Regions from separate parts of the Homo sapiens genome. Here region 2 is linked to region 1. The links come from fine-mapping of genetic effects on gene expression. A gene starts in region 1. The other region holds a variant in brackets. All regions are shown on one strand. Distances are between the middles of the regions.

Region 1 (8,346 bases):
AATTCATTCTTTCAAAGGAGAGAGACAGATAAGGAGGATTTCTATACAATTATCAAAGTGATACATAAATTCCCCTGTGGTAAAACAAGCTTATCCATATATCTAGAATAAATAATGTTATATACTTTGTGTTAATCACTAATGAATGTTCTTTTCTTAAAGAATAAATTTTCTTTTACAAATAAGTTTATAAGGTTTATCATTCCTTTGTTTCTTATAATCTGTAATTTAAAAATAAAACCTTTTTCAGATCATTGTAATTTTGTTAATTTAACTGCCTAAATATTGAATCTTATGTCCATACTCTCTTCCCTTGAGCATTTAAAAAATAGAAAGTTCATGTCACTTCATTTACCTCCAAGTCTTGCTCTGATAGAAATGTCTGGTACTTCCCTGGAATTCCATCTCCTGTTCTGTTGCAGTTCTTCTGATAGAATTTTTTGCCTTTTTATTGTTGTTTGAAATCCTGTGTCTGGTCTGGGAACTCGATGTTGAGGTTTCACATCACTAAAATCCACTAGGGTTGGTATGGTTCTGCCAATGCCAGGATTTAAATCAGCATCACCACCAGGACTCATAAACCCTGAACAGGAATCACCTAAGGTCACATCATCCCGAAGTGGAAATAATGGATAATGTGGCCCATATGGTGGGGGATAAGGATCATGTAAATGATAGTCTGGCAAAACTGAAGGGGGATAAGGGTGAAATTTAAGAAAAGCAGGGTTGCATTTCTTTTCAAACCTGCCATAGTTATGTCTGTTCTCAAGACCTTTCACAAAAGGCATGTTCATTTTTCTTAAGAGATCACAATAGTGTGGGTAATCTATATTCTCAACAGTTCCTGAAAGGATGGACCTTTTAGAGATACTTATCTTTCCAGGTGTGTCCTGAATTTCTACATCCATGGCCTTTTTCTTTAGAATTTTTGATAACTATAAAGTATTTCTGATAATTCCTTTATATTTAACTATATAAACTCTATTGCCAATAACTAAAGATCTGTGTTAAACTAGTATAAAATTGACACAGCTTTCTAAATGTTGGCAGATAATTTTGTTTTTCTTTTTAAGGCAAATATTTTCCTCCACCAAAGGAAGAATAGGGCAATGAAGGAACATGACATAAGGAGAATAAAGCAGAGCCCTTGTTGCCTGGCAACGGCTAGAATTCTTAACACATTGAACCATTTATTATGTACATCACAATTCTTAAGAAAAACAAAAATAGCCTTGGTACTAATATTTCCATGATACTTTTCTCCCCAGTGCTCAGGAAAGCTGTGTTCATTTACTTATTTTAAAATTTTTCCATAAGTTGGTATTTTATGGGTATAAAATATATTTAAGGAGTGTAAATAAAGCAGTTAATTCAGTGACAATACATTTCTCAAAAGTATATATGTGACTACAATTAAGTATTTATATATATAACACTTGCTATCTAATTAAATGTAAATCTAAATGCACTACAAAATATAAACATTACTAAAGTTAAATTGGTACATCTAATTTTTTTTTTTTGGTGGAGTCTCACTCTGTCGCCTAGGCTGGAGTGCAGTGGTGTGATCTTGGCTCACTGCAAGCTCCGCCTCCCAGGTTCACGCCATTCTCCTGCCTCAGCCTCCCAAGCAGCTGGGACTGCAGGCGCCCGCCACCATGCCCGGCTAATTTTTTGTATTTTTAGTAGAGATGGGGTTTCACTGTGTTAGCCAGGATGGTCTCGATCTCCTGACCTTGTGATCTGCCCGCCTCGGCCTCCCAAAGTGCTGGGATTACAGGTGTGAGCCACTGTGCCCAGCCCTAGTATATCTAATTTTTAAGAAAAACAGAAAATTATAATGAAAGTACAGGTACATCTTTACATGCCCTAAATTATCTTTACTTCCCTTAAATTTGCCATGGTGTCCAGAGTAAGAACAGTAAGAGTTTTAAGTTCATTTTAGGAAACCACAATGGGTATCAGTTAACTGTCTACACACAAAATATCATTTAAATCACTAATGTATTGGTTCACTTAAAAGCTCTTTCACCTGGATAATTTCATCTTGCATGAACTACTATAAGAGGAAATGCAAATATTAGAATTTGGGGTAAAAGTTCACATCATCCTTACTGCAGCAAAAATGTTAAAACAGGCAAGATTCTAGCTTTGAAGAGTCAGGCACATAATCGTTAATCAGGCCAACTGTCAAGGGTGATATGTTTGGTACAATCAGAATGCCTATGCCCCATTGAAAGTCTTTACAATTTTGAGATATACTATTAAACAAGTGAGATTAAATTAGGTGGTTAGGCTGTCAGTTTTAAATCCTTCATCCAGATCATAGCATATCAAGTGACAGTTTTTAGTCCACCCATGATCACTCATTTCTTCATATCAAAAGTGATAACTCACTTGTAATTAGGCATTCTACATTTAGTTGCTCAAACTTCATTCTTCAATGTATTTAAACCAACTGCTTAAGATTTATTTCTATCACAGCTCTGCTCCCATTAAGTAAATCCTTCCAGCAGCAGAAAAGTAGAGGCATGAGTCTCTTTCAATTTCTCTAAAACAAGTTCTAGCTATAAATGGCCTCTTAGGCTGTGTATGGGAAAATAATAACCCCCATAACTTTGTACTTAGAATGGATCCTTTACAAGAGACAGATTAACAAGAGAAAAACAGATGTTTATTAATATATTTCATTTATATATGAGGAACACCCAGAGAATGAGTAGTTCTCAAAGAAGCGTCTTTGAATTCCAGCTTGTATAGCATCTTCAACAAAGACTAGGAAATTTTTAGAGATGTGACAAAGGAAAAGGACTCTGAGTCTCTACAGGCAGTAACTTGGGCTAAGCAAACAAATAGCAGACAAAAGATGGTTTAAAAAAAGCTAATATTAATTCCTCTGATATCATTTCAAGGCTAATGAGGGTCTGACGCTGTCTTCAGTGGTTAACCTTTGTTCTCCCTGGTAAAGGAGTGGGGCAGGATACCTTTTCTCTTTCTAATCTATGTCTTGCTTCTGGGTAAAAAGAGGGCAGGTGGACAGCTCTCCTGCATCTGCTGGTTCTTGTCTTCAGGGCAGCAATCCTTCATATTTGAGAAGGTATATTCTGGTCTCCCACACAGGATAGATGGTTTTGTATGTTTTGCTGAATTTAGGTGACACTATAAGATGATCTTCCGGTCTATTTTAGAAAGTAAATTTCATCTATGGTTATTTCCTCTGTCCTTCCATCAAGCTTCTTTCTGAGGCTAAAGGCCTTACTTACCTTTAATTCCCACTAAGTGTGTATTGCATTTATCTCCCAATTAAGTTCCACACATCCATAAAATACTATCTGCTGACATTACTAGATCAAAGCAGTCCACTGAGGGCTTTACACGTCTTAACTCATGCATTCTCACTATCTGTTGTTCGAAACTGGGCCCCACATCTACCACCTGGCTCATAAAAAGGGCTTTTCGATCATAAACGCTATGCAAAGGTAAAAGCACGGGATTTGGGGCCCAACGATTCTCTCTCAGCTCTAGGATCTTGGACAAATCACTGATGTTCTTGAGGATGCCCTGCGTGGCTGTGTTGTCCTGAAGGCCCGGGGGCTGCACAGCACAGTTGGCGCGTGTAGGCCCCACCAGCTATGTGGAGACACAGGCTGACCCCTAGTCTACCACCCCGGCGGAAGTGGGAGCACGTCCATCAGGTCCGTTGTTCCGGTCCTCCGCCCGCCAACTTCCGGCTGCAGGTGGGCGCGCGTTGCCTAACGACCTTCCGCGCGGACGGTGGGCAGGCGACGGCGGCGTGTGGATGGAGGCCTTCGCCCTTGGCCCAGCGCGGCGGGGCAGGCGGCGGACCCGGGCCGCCGGCTCCCTGCTCTCTCGGGCCGCCATCCTCCTCTTTATCTCCGCCTTCCTGGTGCGGGTGCCCTCATCAGGTGAGGGTCCGCGCCGCCCTGCCGGCTCCGCAGGGACAACCGCAGCTTCCCCCACTCTTCGAATTGCCTTTTCTTGTGTCACGTGCATCCGTTTTATATAGAGACACCTTGCTCACTAATACGTGACAAGAAAGGCTTATTTTTTATGGAAGTCGTACAAAGTCACTCTGCATTTGCATAGAGGAGTGAATGACAGGAAATTAAGGTATAGATGGATCACTACGTCACCCACAGTTGAAGTTTTACAATTAAATTGCTTTGTTGATAAACTCCCCAATTCAGTCCATGGGTCATCTGCCAGGTTTGCATTTCAGTGTGTGAACTCTGTAATGATGAGATCAGTGTCTTTCAAATAGGCAACCTGCTGCTTTCAAATTATCCGTGATGGTGGAGCGCCATCTATTGGTTTTAGCTGTGAAATACAGGAAATAATGCGATTTTAAAGTTTTGACCTCTAAAGAATTGAAGTACTTTTCTATACTGTTTTAAAAATACATGTAAGATACTGATGAACAAACACTGACGAAGGATGTGAAAGTTTAATTGAACTGTTATTTAACTAGAAAGGTTTTGGCTGCATTCTAGACTCAAAATTCTAGACCCAAAATTGATAAAATCACAGAGATTTGCTTCAAATGAAAAAAGTTGTTCAAATAAGGAATAATGAAAAAAAGAAGTCCTCCAAGAATATAAATGTAAAAGGTTTGTGGAGGTAGGTAGGGGATAGGGGAGGAGAAAGGAAACAAATGGAGTGAATAGAGATTTAAAAATCAAAGTCCAGGCATCAGGAATCCAAAGATTATTCTTCTATAAGTATATGAATAGCCGATAGCCATCAATTGCCATGTAGGAGAAAGATGCTTCTTGGATATGGGTCGTGGTCGTGTATTAGGTGTGAAAGGGTTTTTATTTTAAATTTTTACCTGGTGATCTTTTGATGAAATAATAAGATTAGACCTATGAGATATAAGAAATAGAATAAGCAGTTAGTATCTTGTAAGTGATGAATAGTGAAGGCCTCTTATATAGCATTTTACAATTTATACAGTATTCTCATTTTCTACAGTAACTGTAAGGATGGAATTATTATTAGTCCCATTTTACATATAAGAAAACTGAAGCTCCTAGAGTTTAAAGTGATTTTCCTAAAACCAGTAAGTGGCAGAATTAGGATTTAAACTCAAGTCCTCTGGCTTTGATACCACATCCTTTTCTTTGCACTTTGCTATTCCTGTCTGCTAAAGGCTATTTGGGTATAATGCTTTATTGCATTTTTATACTGCCCCTCACACTATTATGCCCATCACATTTGCTCATTTAACAATGAAGACTATCAGAATATGTTTCACAATTATTATTTAATATTTACAATGTGCAAGGTATAGTGTTTGATACTGATTCTTGATAAGTTAACATAAACATTGATCCCACTATCAATGGAGCTTATAATCTAATAAGGAAAATGGTATGTGTGTATCAAGAACTATAGTATAAGCCGATGTCTACAAGGGTTTTTCTGATATTATCTTCTAGAATTTTTATAGTTTCAGGTCCTAGATTTAAGTCCTTAATTCATCTTGAGTTGATTTTTATGTAAGGTGAGAGATGAGGATCCAGTTTCATTCTTCTGCATGTGGCTTTCCAATTATCCCAGCACCATTTAGGCAAAGATTTCATGTCCAAGAACCCAAAAGCAAATGCAACAAAAACAAGGACAAATATGTCGGACTTAATTAAACTAAAGAGCTTTTGCACAGCAAACGGAACAGTCAGCAGAGTAAACAGACAACCCACAGAATGGGAGAAAACCTTCACAATATATACATCTGGCAAAGGACTAATATCTGGAATCTATATCTAGAATCTACAAGGAACTCAAACAAATTAGCATGAAAAAAAACCCCAACAGTCCCATCAAAAAGTGGGCTAAGGACATGAATAGGCAGTTCTCAAAAGAAGATATACAAATGGCCAACAAACATATGAAAAAATGCTCAACATCACTAGTTATCAGAGAAATGCAAATCAAAACCACAATGTGATATCACCTTACTCTCGCAAGAATGGCCATAATCAAAAAATAAAAAAAAAAATAGATGTTGGTGTGGATGCAGTGAAAAGGGAACACTTCTACACTGCTGGTGGGAATGTAAACTAGTACAACCACTATGGAAAATTGTGGAGATTCCCTAAAGAACTGAAAGTAGAACTACCACTGGATCCAGCAGTCCAACTACTGGTGTCTACCCGGAGGAAAATAAGTCATTATATGAAAAAGGTACTTGCACACACACGTTGATAGCAGCACAATTCACAGTTGCAAAAACATGGAACCAGCCCAAATGCCCATCAGTCAATGAGTGGATAAAGAAACTGTGGTGTATGGTATATGTGTATATATATATGTGTGTGTGTGTGTGCATGTGTGTGTGTATATATATACACATATATACACATATATACGCATATATACGCATATATATACACAAATATATACACATATATATGCATATATATGCACACATATATACACACATATATATACACATATATACACATATATATACACTCATATACACACACACACACACAAACATAAATATATATATGGAATACTACTCAACTATAAAAAGGAATGGATTAATGGCACTTGCAGCAACCTGGATGGGATTGGAGACTATTATTCTAAGTGAAGTAACTCAGGAATGCAAAACCAAACATTATATGTTCTCATTTATAAGTGGGAGCTAAGCTATGAGGATGCAAAGGCATGAGAATGATACAATGGTCTTTGGGGACTCGGGGGTGGGAGAAACGGTGGGATGGGGGTGAGGGATAAAAGACTACAAATTGGGTTTAGTGTTTATTATGTGATGGGTATACCAAAATCTCAAAAATCCTTACTAAAGAATTTATGTAACCGAATACCACCTGTTCCTCCAAAACTTAAGGAAATTAAAAACAAAGAACTATAGTACAATGTAGAATGAGTGTTATTAAAAAGGTGCTGGTGATGTACTGTGGCAGATAAGAAGTGCTAAGGACAAACGAGGTTTGAAGGAGAAGGGACTTGTGATTTGGGTCTTGAATGGTGGGAGATTTGAACTTCTAATAATGAAGAGATTATTCTAAATGGCTTTAGAAAAAATCAGAGGTGAGATATAATATGGAGAAGCAGTACGTAGATTAAATTTATCAGATCATCTGAGGGGGAATAGAGTTGGAACAGTGATATCAACTGTCAGAGGAGATTGAATTATGGCTCTCCCCTTCAACCAATACCAAAGATACTGTAATAGTATATTTGAATATTTTAGAATATCTAATGAGACAAATTGTTGATCTTTTTTTTTGATAGTTGGACACTTGGTTCGATTACCAAGAGCTTTTCGCTTGACCAAAGATTCAGTGAAAATAGTGGGATCAACAAGTTTTCCAGGTATTCATAAATATATTTTCACTAATTTTTAAAAGTTATTAGCATTTGTTTAAATTTATCAGTCTTCTCCAAAAGGCTAATGCTCTTCATTTATCCTAGTCTCCTAAGGCCCTTTTCTTTCTACAGAAGTGGATTAAAGTTGTTTGCATATGGTTAGACTCATCCAGTTCTAATACTATATGCTATAACTACATAAGTATACAAAGAATAATTATTTCTAAAAGTTATCTAAAGTTGCCTGTGTGGATTTTTATTATATAATAATTAGCTATAATATTAAATGTATATAGTGCAAATATGGTAATACAAATCATACATATTTTGGATTCAAAGATTTGCAGTAGTCACATGAAGTATGGCAACTACAACTTGTTTTGGTGGTTTTTAAGTTGTGGCAAATTCACATGCCATAAAATTCTTCCTTTAAAGTGCACAATTCAATTGTTTTTAGTATATTGACAAGATTAGGCAACCATTGCCCCTATGTAATTTTACAACATTTTCATCACCCCAAAAAGAAAGACCTAATCCATTATGCAATCATTCTTCAGCCCTGAAAACTACTTATCTACTTTCTGTCTCTATAGGTTTGCCTGTTCTGGAAATTTCATATAAATGGAGTCATACACTATGTGCCCTTTTGTGTCTGTCTTTCACTTAGTATGACGTTTTTGAGGTTCAGCCATGTTATAGAGTGCATCAATACTTCATTCCTTTTTAGGGTGGGATAATACTCACTTCTCTACCTATGAGTAACTCTATGTTTAATATTTTGAGGAGCTGCCAAACTATTTTTTAAAGAGCCTAAGCTATTTTACTTTCACACCAGCAATGTATGAGGGTTCAGATTTTCCAATATCCTAAACATTGTTATTATCCATCTTCTTTTTTTATAGCTATCCTAGTATGTGTAAACTGGTATCATTGTGGTTTTGATTTGCATTTCCCTAATGACTAATGATGTTGTAACTCTTCATGTGC
Region 2 (8,346 bases), 150 kb after region 1:
ATCAGACTATTTTTCACAGTTGGTTTTATTAATACATTTCCAACAGTAGGGTGGAAGAAACTCTGTTATTCCATATCTATGTGAATTCTTGGCATAATCAAATTGTAGATATTAGCTAATTTAAATATATGAATGTGTATATATCACTTTTTATTATGGTAAAATGTACATAACATAAAATTTAACATTTTAAGTGTATTTAAATGTATAATTTAAATACACAGTGGCATTAACTTCAGTCCCACTGTTGTGAAATCATCATCACCATCCATCTCTAGAATTTTTTTCAACTTCTAGACTGAAATTGTATACCCATTAAATAATAACTCCCCATTCCCTTCTCCCTCCAACACCTGAAAACCACCATTCTACATTTTTTCTCTATAAATGTGACTACTCTAGATACCTCATATAAGTGGAATCATATAGTATTTGTCTTTTTATGACTGGCTTATTTCACTTAGCACAATATTTTTAAGATTCATCCATGTTATAGCATGTGTCAGAATTTCCTTTTTAAGGCTGAATAACATTCTATTGTACCTATACACACATTTTGTTTTTCATTTATTCACTGATGGGCATTGGGCTACATCCAGCTGTTGGCTATTGTGAATAATGCTGCATTAAACACAGGTAAGCAAATACCTGCAAGATCCTGCTTTCAGTTATTTTAGATATATACTATATTAGGCTGCCATAATAAAATTTCATAGAATGGGTGGCTTAAACAACAGAAATTTATTTTCTTACAATTCTGGATGCTAGAAGTCCAAGATCAGTTTCTGGAGAGGGCTCTCTTCTTGATTTCAGACAGCCACCTTCTGGTATTGTCCTTACATGGCTTTTCCTTGGTGCATATTCATGGAGAAAGAGGTAGCAGTGTTTCTGGTCTGTTTTCTTATAAGGAGATTAATCTTATCAGATAAGGGCCCTGCCTTTATTACCTCATTTAAATTTATCTCCTTAGGGGCCTTATCTCCAACATTGCCTCATTGGAGATTAGGGCTTTAATATATCAATTTGGAGGGACACAAACGTTAAGTCCATAATGCATACAAATGTCTCTTTGAGACACTTCTTTCAATTCTTTTGAGCATATACCCAGAAATGGGATTGCTGATTCATATGGCAATTCTATTTTAATTTCTTGAAGAGCCACCATACTGATTTTCCATAGCCACTATACCATTTTACATTCCCATCAGCAATGCACAAGGCTCACAATTTCTCCATGTCCTCACCAACACTAGTTATTTTCCATTTTCTTGATACTTGTCGTCTCATTGTGTTTGAAGTGGTATCTCATTATGGTTTTGAGTTGCATTTCCCTAATGGTTAGTAGTGTTGAGCATCTGTTTATATACTTATTGACCATTTGTGTATCTTCTTTGGAGAAACACCTATGCAAGTCTTCTTCCCATTTTTTAATTGGGTTGTTTGTTGAATTATAGGAGTTTAAAATTCAAAAAAAAAATGTTAACCACTTATCAGACATGTGATTTGCAAATATTTTCTCCTATATTGTGGGTTGCCTTTTCACTATATTTGATAATGTCCTTTGATACACAAAAGGTTTTATTTTTATAGAACCCAATCTTTATTTCTTGTGCTTTTGGTATCACGTAAAAGAAATCAAAACAGGGAGAAGGCAGAGTAAGATGGCCAAATAGAACCCTCCAGTGATTATCCCTCCTGCTGGAACACCAAATTGAACAACTGTCCACACAAAAAAGCACCTTCATAAGAATCAAGCATTAGCTTGGATACCAGCTTTGTGGAGTAGAGCAACAAGTGGGCTCCTGGAGTCTTCAGTTCCAGGCCATCGCTCCTGGATAGGATTTCTGGACCTTCTCTGAGCTAGGGGGTAGCCCACTGCCTTGAAAGGAGAGACTCAGAACTGGCAGCATTCACCACAAGCTGACTGAAGGGCCTTTGGGCCTCGAGTGAACATTGGTGGTAGCCAGGCAATACTTGCTGCAGGCCTGGGGCAATGATGGTCATAGAGAGAGACTACTATGCTTGAGAATAGGGGAGTGAAGAGTGGGAAAGACTTTGTCTTGAAGCTTTGGTGCCAGTTCTGCTGCTGTAGAATAGAGGACCAGGTAGATTCCAGTCCTTGGTTCCCAGATGGCATCTCTGAACACAGTTAGGGCTGGAAGAAACTTACCAACAGGAAGTGAAGGATATGAGCCTGGCTGGACTCACTACCTGCTTATTGTAGAGCCCTTGGGTCTTCAGTGAACATAAGCGGTAGTTAGGCAGTGGTGACTATGAGCCTTGGGTGAAACCCAATGCTATGCTGGCTTCAGGTCTGACCCAGTGCAGTCACAGGTGGTGGTTGCCACAGGGTGCCTGATTCACCCCTCCTCTTGTTCCAGTCAGCTCAGCACACACAGAGAGACTCTGTTTGTTTGCAGGAAAATAAGAGAAGAGAACAAGAGTCTCTGCCTGGTAATCCAGGGAATTCTTCTGAATCTTACCCAAAACCTCCAAGGCAGTGCATCTGCAAGTCTGCAGGAGCCACAGTGTTACTAGGCTTGGAGAGCCCCCTAATGCAGATATAGCTGCAGTGACCAAAGACTTCAATCACAACACTGAAGTCTCTTTGAATACCTAGAAGGCCTTCCCAGGGAGGATGGGTACATAAAAGCCCAGACTGCGAAGACCACAATAAATACCTGACTCTTCAATGCCAAGACATCAACAAACATCCACAAGCATCAAGATCATCCAGGAAAACATGACCTCATCAAATGAACTAAATAGGGCACCGGTGATCAATCTTGGGAAACAGATGTGTAACCTTTCAGATGGAGAATTCATAATAGCTATTTTGAGGAAGCTTAACAGAATTCAAGATAACACAGAGAAGGAATTCAGAATCCTGTCAGATAAATTTAACAAAGAAATTGAAATAATTAAAAAGCATCAAGCAGAAGTTCTGGAGCTGAAAAATGCAATTGATATATTGAAGAATGCATCAGAGACTCTTAACAGCAGAATTTATCAGGCAAAATAAAGAATTAGTGAGCTTCAAGGTAGGCTATTTGGAAATACACAGTCAGAAAAGACAAAAGACAAAAAGATGAAGCATGTCTAGAAGATCTAGAAAATAGCCTCTAAAGGGCAAATCTAAGAGTTATTGGCCTTAAGGAGAAGGGAGAGTGAGAGGTTGGGGTACAAAGGTTATTCAAAGGGATGGTAACAGAGAAGTTTCCAAACCTAGAAAAAGGTATCAGTATTCAAGGACAAGAAAGGTATAGAACACCAAGCAACTTTAACCCAGGTGAGACTACCTCAAGACATTTAATAGTCAACCTCCCAAAGGTCAAGGATAAAGAATGGATCCTAAAAGCAGCAAAAGAAAAGAAACAACATACAATGGAGCTCCAGTACATTTGTGAGCAGACTTCTCAGTGGAAACCTTATAGGCCAGGAGAGAGTGGTATGACATATTTAAATTGCTGAAGGAAAAAAAAGAAAAAATTTGTATCCTAGAATAGTATATCTGGCAAAAATATTCTTCAAACATGGAGAAGAAATAAAGACTTCCCCAGAAAAACAAAAGCTGAGGGATTTCATCACCACCAGACCTTGCCTATAAGAAATGCTAAGGAGAGTTCTTCAATCTGAAGGAAAGGGATGTTAATGAACAATAAGAAATCATCTGAAGTAAATACACAAAAAAACACAGAATATTATAATACTGCAATAGTGGTGTATAAACACTCATATCTCGAGTAGAAAGACTGAAAGATGAACCTATAAAAATAATAACTACAACAACTTTTCACAACACTGTATACTAAGATATAAATAGAAACAACAAAAAGCTAAAAAGGGGGGGATGAAGTTAAACTGTAGAGTTTTTTACTAGTTTTCTCTTTGCTTGTTTGTTTATGCAATCAGCATTAAGTTGTTGTCAGTTTAAAATAACAGGTTACGTGATATTATTTGCAAGGCTATGGTAACCACAAATCAAAAAACACAACGGATATGTACATATACCACCAGAGAAAATCACCTTCACTAAAAGGAATACAGGAAGAAAAGAAAGAAGGAAAAGACCACAAAACAACCAGAAAACAAGTGACAAAATGGCAAAAGTAATTCCTTATGAGTAATAACATGGAATATAAATGCACTAAACTCTCCAGTAAAGAGACAAAGAGAGCTGAATGGATAAAAACACAAGACCCAACAATCTGTTGCCTACATGAAACACACTACACCCAGACGGACACACACATAGGCTGAAAATAAAGAGTTAAAAAAAGTTCCATGCAAAACCAGAAAAGAGCAGGAGTAGCTATACTTATATCAGGAAAAAAAAAATAGATTTCAAGACAAAAAGCATAAAAACAGACAAGGTCATTGAATAAAGAAATCAATTCAGCAAGAGGATATAATAATTCTTAATATATATGAATCTAACACAGGAGCATCCAGATATATAAAGCACATATTATTAGAGCTAAAGAGAGAGACCCCTATACAATAATAGCTGGAGACTTTAACACCCTACTTTCAGTGCAGCATTGGACAAATTATCCAGACAGAAAATCAACAAAGAAATATCAGGCTTAATCTCTACTATACAACAAATGAACCTAATAGCCATATTCACAGAACATTTCATCCCACAGTTGCAGAATACACATTCTTCT[C/T]CTCAGCTCATGGATAATCCTCAAAGATAGGCCATATGTTAGGCCACAAATCAAATCTTTAAAAAGTCAAAAAATTGAAATTATATCAAGTATCTTCTCTGACCACAATGGAATAAAACTAGAAATGAATAACAAGAGGAATTTTGAAACTATATGAACACCTGGAAATTAAACAATATGCTCCTGAATGACCAGTGGCTCAATGAAGAAATTAAGAAGGAAATTTTAAAATGTCTTGAAACAAATGAAAATGGAAACCTGATGTACCTAAACCTGTGGGATACAGCAAAAGCAGTACAGGGAAGTTTATTGCAATAGGCACCTACATCAACAAAAGCAGAAAAACTTCAAATTAGCAACCTATTGATACATCTTAAAGAACTAGAAAAACAAGGGCAAACCAAACCCCAAATTAGTAGAAGGAATAAAGATCAGAGCAGAAATAAATGAAATAAAAAAAATACAAAAATCAATGAAATGAAAAGTTATTTTTAAAAAAGATAAACAAAATCAACAAACCTTTAGCCAGACTAAGAAAAAAAGAAGATAAAATAAATGAAAATAAAATCAGATAAAACAGTAGACATTGCGTCTGCTGCCATGGAAATTCAAAGGATCATTAGAGGCTTCTAGGAGCAACTATATGCCAATAAATTGGAAAACCTAGAAGACATTCCCAGACAGATACAGCCTACCAAGATTGAACTATGAAAAAATCTAACAACTGAGGAGACCAATAACAACTACTGAGATTGAAGCTGTAATAAAACAGGTCACTTCAGCCAGGCCTGGGAAGTTCTGAATTCATTTACCCAACATAAGCTGGACTTAGCACTTCAGTTCCCATCTCATCGCCAAGATGGTAAAGCCCAAGTACAAAAGGACAGTGCATCATCAACCTCTTCGATGCCAGCACAAACCCAGACTGAGAGCAGGAAGCAGGAGGTCAAAACATGAGGGACCAGGCCACAGTCTCAGGCCTGAATATGTACAGGCAAAAGAAATACAAGAACAGCTGTGGTAAGATCATTAAGCCCCTGGAATATCAATCAAAGGTGGCTTCTGGCACAGTGGCAAAAGTGCAGCCAAATATCAAATAGTTTGAAAATGCACATGTGATTAAGCAGTCATGATTACAAAAACTTCAAGAGGAAGTGGATACAGTTATGAAGGATTCATACACAGTTGTCATGAAACAAAGCAAGTTACCAATGTCTCTTCTCTAAGATTGAATCCAGCCTCAACTCAAAGGTGCACGTTCCTGATACTGAAAGTTTTAAAACTACATTTGGCCCTATGTCACAAAGGAAGCAACCAAATTTATTTGCAAGTGATATGCAGTCTTTTCTAGAAAATGCTGAAATGTCCACTGAGAGCTAGACCAGTTTCTAGAAAAGATCATGAGTCAGTAACTGAAGACACTGGTGGGATAAATGAAGCACAAGAAGAGACATGTAAAAAGGGACAGTCCAAAGGAATATAGGATGAGCTCTCCAGGGTTATAGATTCACCAGATGTTGTAGTTCTGGTTGCTGGCTAGAGATCCAATGGGTACCCGTTCCCGTCACATTGAGCCTTGAGCCATACTTGAAAAAGAATAAACCCTGGGAACACGTTATGTTTGTACATAACAAATGTGACCTTGTTGCAACCTGGGCAACAAAATGATGGGTTGCTGTCCTCTCCTTGGATTAGCCAACACTTGCTTTCCATGCAAGTCTTACTGACCCCTTTCGCAAAGGAGCATTTATTCAGCTTCTGTGGCAGTTTGGAAAGTTGTACACTGACAAGAAACAGATGAGTGTTGGGTTCATTGGCTATCTAAATGTTGGCAAGAGGTCTGTGATATAAACATAGTGTTCCAAGAAAGTTTGCAATGTGGTCCCCATTGTAGATGAAATATCTGGAAATACATTACCTTGATATGTTGGTTATGCTTCATTGACTGTTCAGGTTTGGTATACTCTTCTGAGGACTTGAAGACAGACATTGTGCTAAAAGGAGTTAAGTAGGAAAAATTAAGACCCCTGAAGACTGCATTGATGTTGTACTTGAACAAGTAAAGCCAGAATATATCAGCAAGACATAAAAGATTAATTCTTGGGAGAATGCTGAGGACTTTATTGAGAAGCTAACTTTCTGGACTGGGAAGTTACTAAAGGGTGGAGTAACTTACTGACTTACTGACTGTGGGTGGATAGTCCTCAATGACTGGCTGAGAGGGCTGGATTCCTTTCTTTGTCAAGCTGCTTAATGGAGAGTCACCTGTGGCCCCCCAGCTTTCACCCTCCTAATCCGTGGAAGTTGCCACAGAAGCAACCCAGAACAATCCAGAAGAGGAAGTGACAGAATGAATACCAAAACTGTAGGTGAAGTGACAGAATCTGTGATTGAAAAAGAAAAAGAAGAGAATAGTCACTGGATGCTAACTCAGAGATGCAACCAATTCTTGTGCATGGGTTCAGCAAAACTTTGGCAAACTCAGTGTGGTGCCTCAGTCTTCTGGGGATGACCTCGCTCCTGTGGATATGTCATATCTGGAGAAAGAGCTTGAGAGCTTTTCTATTGAAGAAGGGGAGCAGAAGCAAGAGATGATGAAGAGTCTTACTAGGAATCTGAGGAAGAACATATGGAAAAATCACACCAAAGCCATTATTAAAGCTCTAGATGAGAATATTGCTAAATATCAGAAGTTTTTAGACAAAGCTAAAGCTAAAAAGTTTTCAGGAGTCAGAATATCCAAGGTACTAAGTGAAAAGATATTTGAAAAACATGAAGAGCAGAGAAAAATATCTGAAGAAGATGCAGATGCTACACAGCATTTACCAAAAAAGGAAATAAGCAGAACACAGAGGGAAGAGGAATATTCAAGTAAAACTTGCAGGATGCTTACATCTAAGGAATGGAAGTGAGCAGTACAGCAGCAACAATCCAAAAAAATTTGTGTGCACTACTATGAAACACACAATGTGAAAAATACAAGCGGGAACAAAAAGAAGACCAATGACTCAGAGGGACTGAAGCAGAAACACAAAAATTCAGATATTAGCAGTAACGTTTAAAAGGTTGTGTATTATACAAAAATATGCAAAAAAAGAGAAATCATTGTAAAATGCAGTATCCTGAAGCTTTTCCCCAGTGTCATCTTCTAAATGTTCTACAGTTTTAGCTCTTAAGTCCTTGATTCATTTTGAGTTAATTTTTGTATATGGTCTAAGAATCCAACTTCATTTAGTTGTCTGTGTATATCCAGTTTTCCCAATACCATTGGGTGAAAAAAATTGTTCTTTCCCCATTGAATGATCTTGGCATCCTTTGTGAAAATCATTTGTCCCTGTATGCAAGGATTTATTACTGGGCTTTCTATTCTGTTCCATTAGTCTGTATGTCTGTCTTTTTGGCAGCACCACACTGTTTTGATTATTGCAGCTTTGTAGTAAGTTTTAAAATCAGGAAATGTGAGACTTTCAACTTTGTTTTTCTTTTTCAATATTTTGGCTATTTGGAGTCTCTTGAGAAAGATTTTTGTTTTTCACAAAAAAAAATGTTATTGGGATTTTGATAGAGATTGCATTGAATCAATAGCTTTGTGTGGTGTTAACACTTTAATATTGTGTTCCAACCCATGAACATGATATGTCTTTCTATTTATTTGTGTCTTCTTGAATTTTTTTCA

Direction of the effects. Positions count from the first base shown, and alleles are read on the strand shown. Sizes are in standard deviations (SD) of each study's normalised expression.
With allele C in place of T in region 2, the expression in testis of the gene that starts at base 3,748 in region 1 is lower (small effect, 0.22 SD a copy in GTEx).

What was found.
Region 2: its variant is fine-mapped to the expression of ZPBP in testis (GTEx, PIP above 0.99).

The regions. Positions count from the first base shown.
Region 1 is chr7:50,088,648-50,096,993 of GRCh38, reverse strand. It overlaps ZPBP (zona pellucida binding protein), which reads left to right and starts at 3,748. Exons shown (of 8, transcript NM_007009.3): 1 at 3,748-3,926; 2 at 7,285-7,365. The coding sequence starts at 3,800. SPMIP7 (sperm microtubule inner protein 7) reads right to left here and starts at 1,111. Exons shown (of 9, transcript NM_001161834.3): 1 at 356-1,111. The coding sequence starts at 908. LOC124901630 (a long non-coding RNA gene) reads right to left here and starts at 3,715. Exons shown (of 2, transcript XR_007060321.1): 1 at 3,264-3,715; 2 at 2,653-3,179. RefSeq lists silencers at 3,655-3,814, 3,895-3,944.
Region 2 is chr7:49,941,624-49,949,969 of GRCh38, reverse strand. The region is part of intron 7 of ZPBP (zona pellucida binding protein); the gene reads left to right. It also overlaps the pseudogene GNL2P1. Among named protein-coding and RNA genes, the nearest start is that of ZPBP, 150 kb to the left of the region's middle. The variant C/T (reference allele first, on the strand shown) is at 4,671.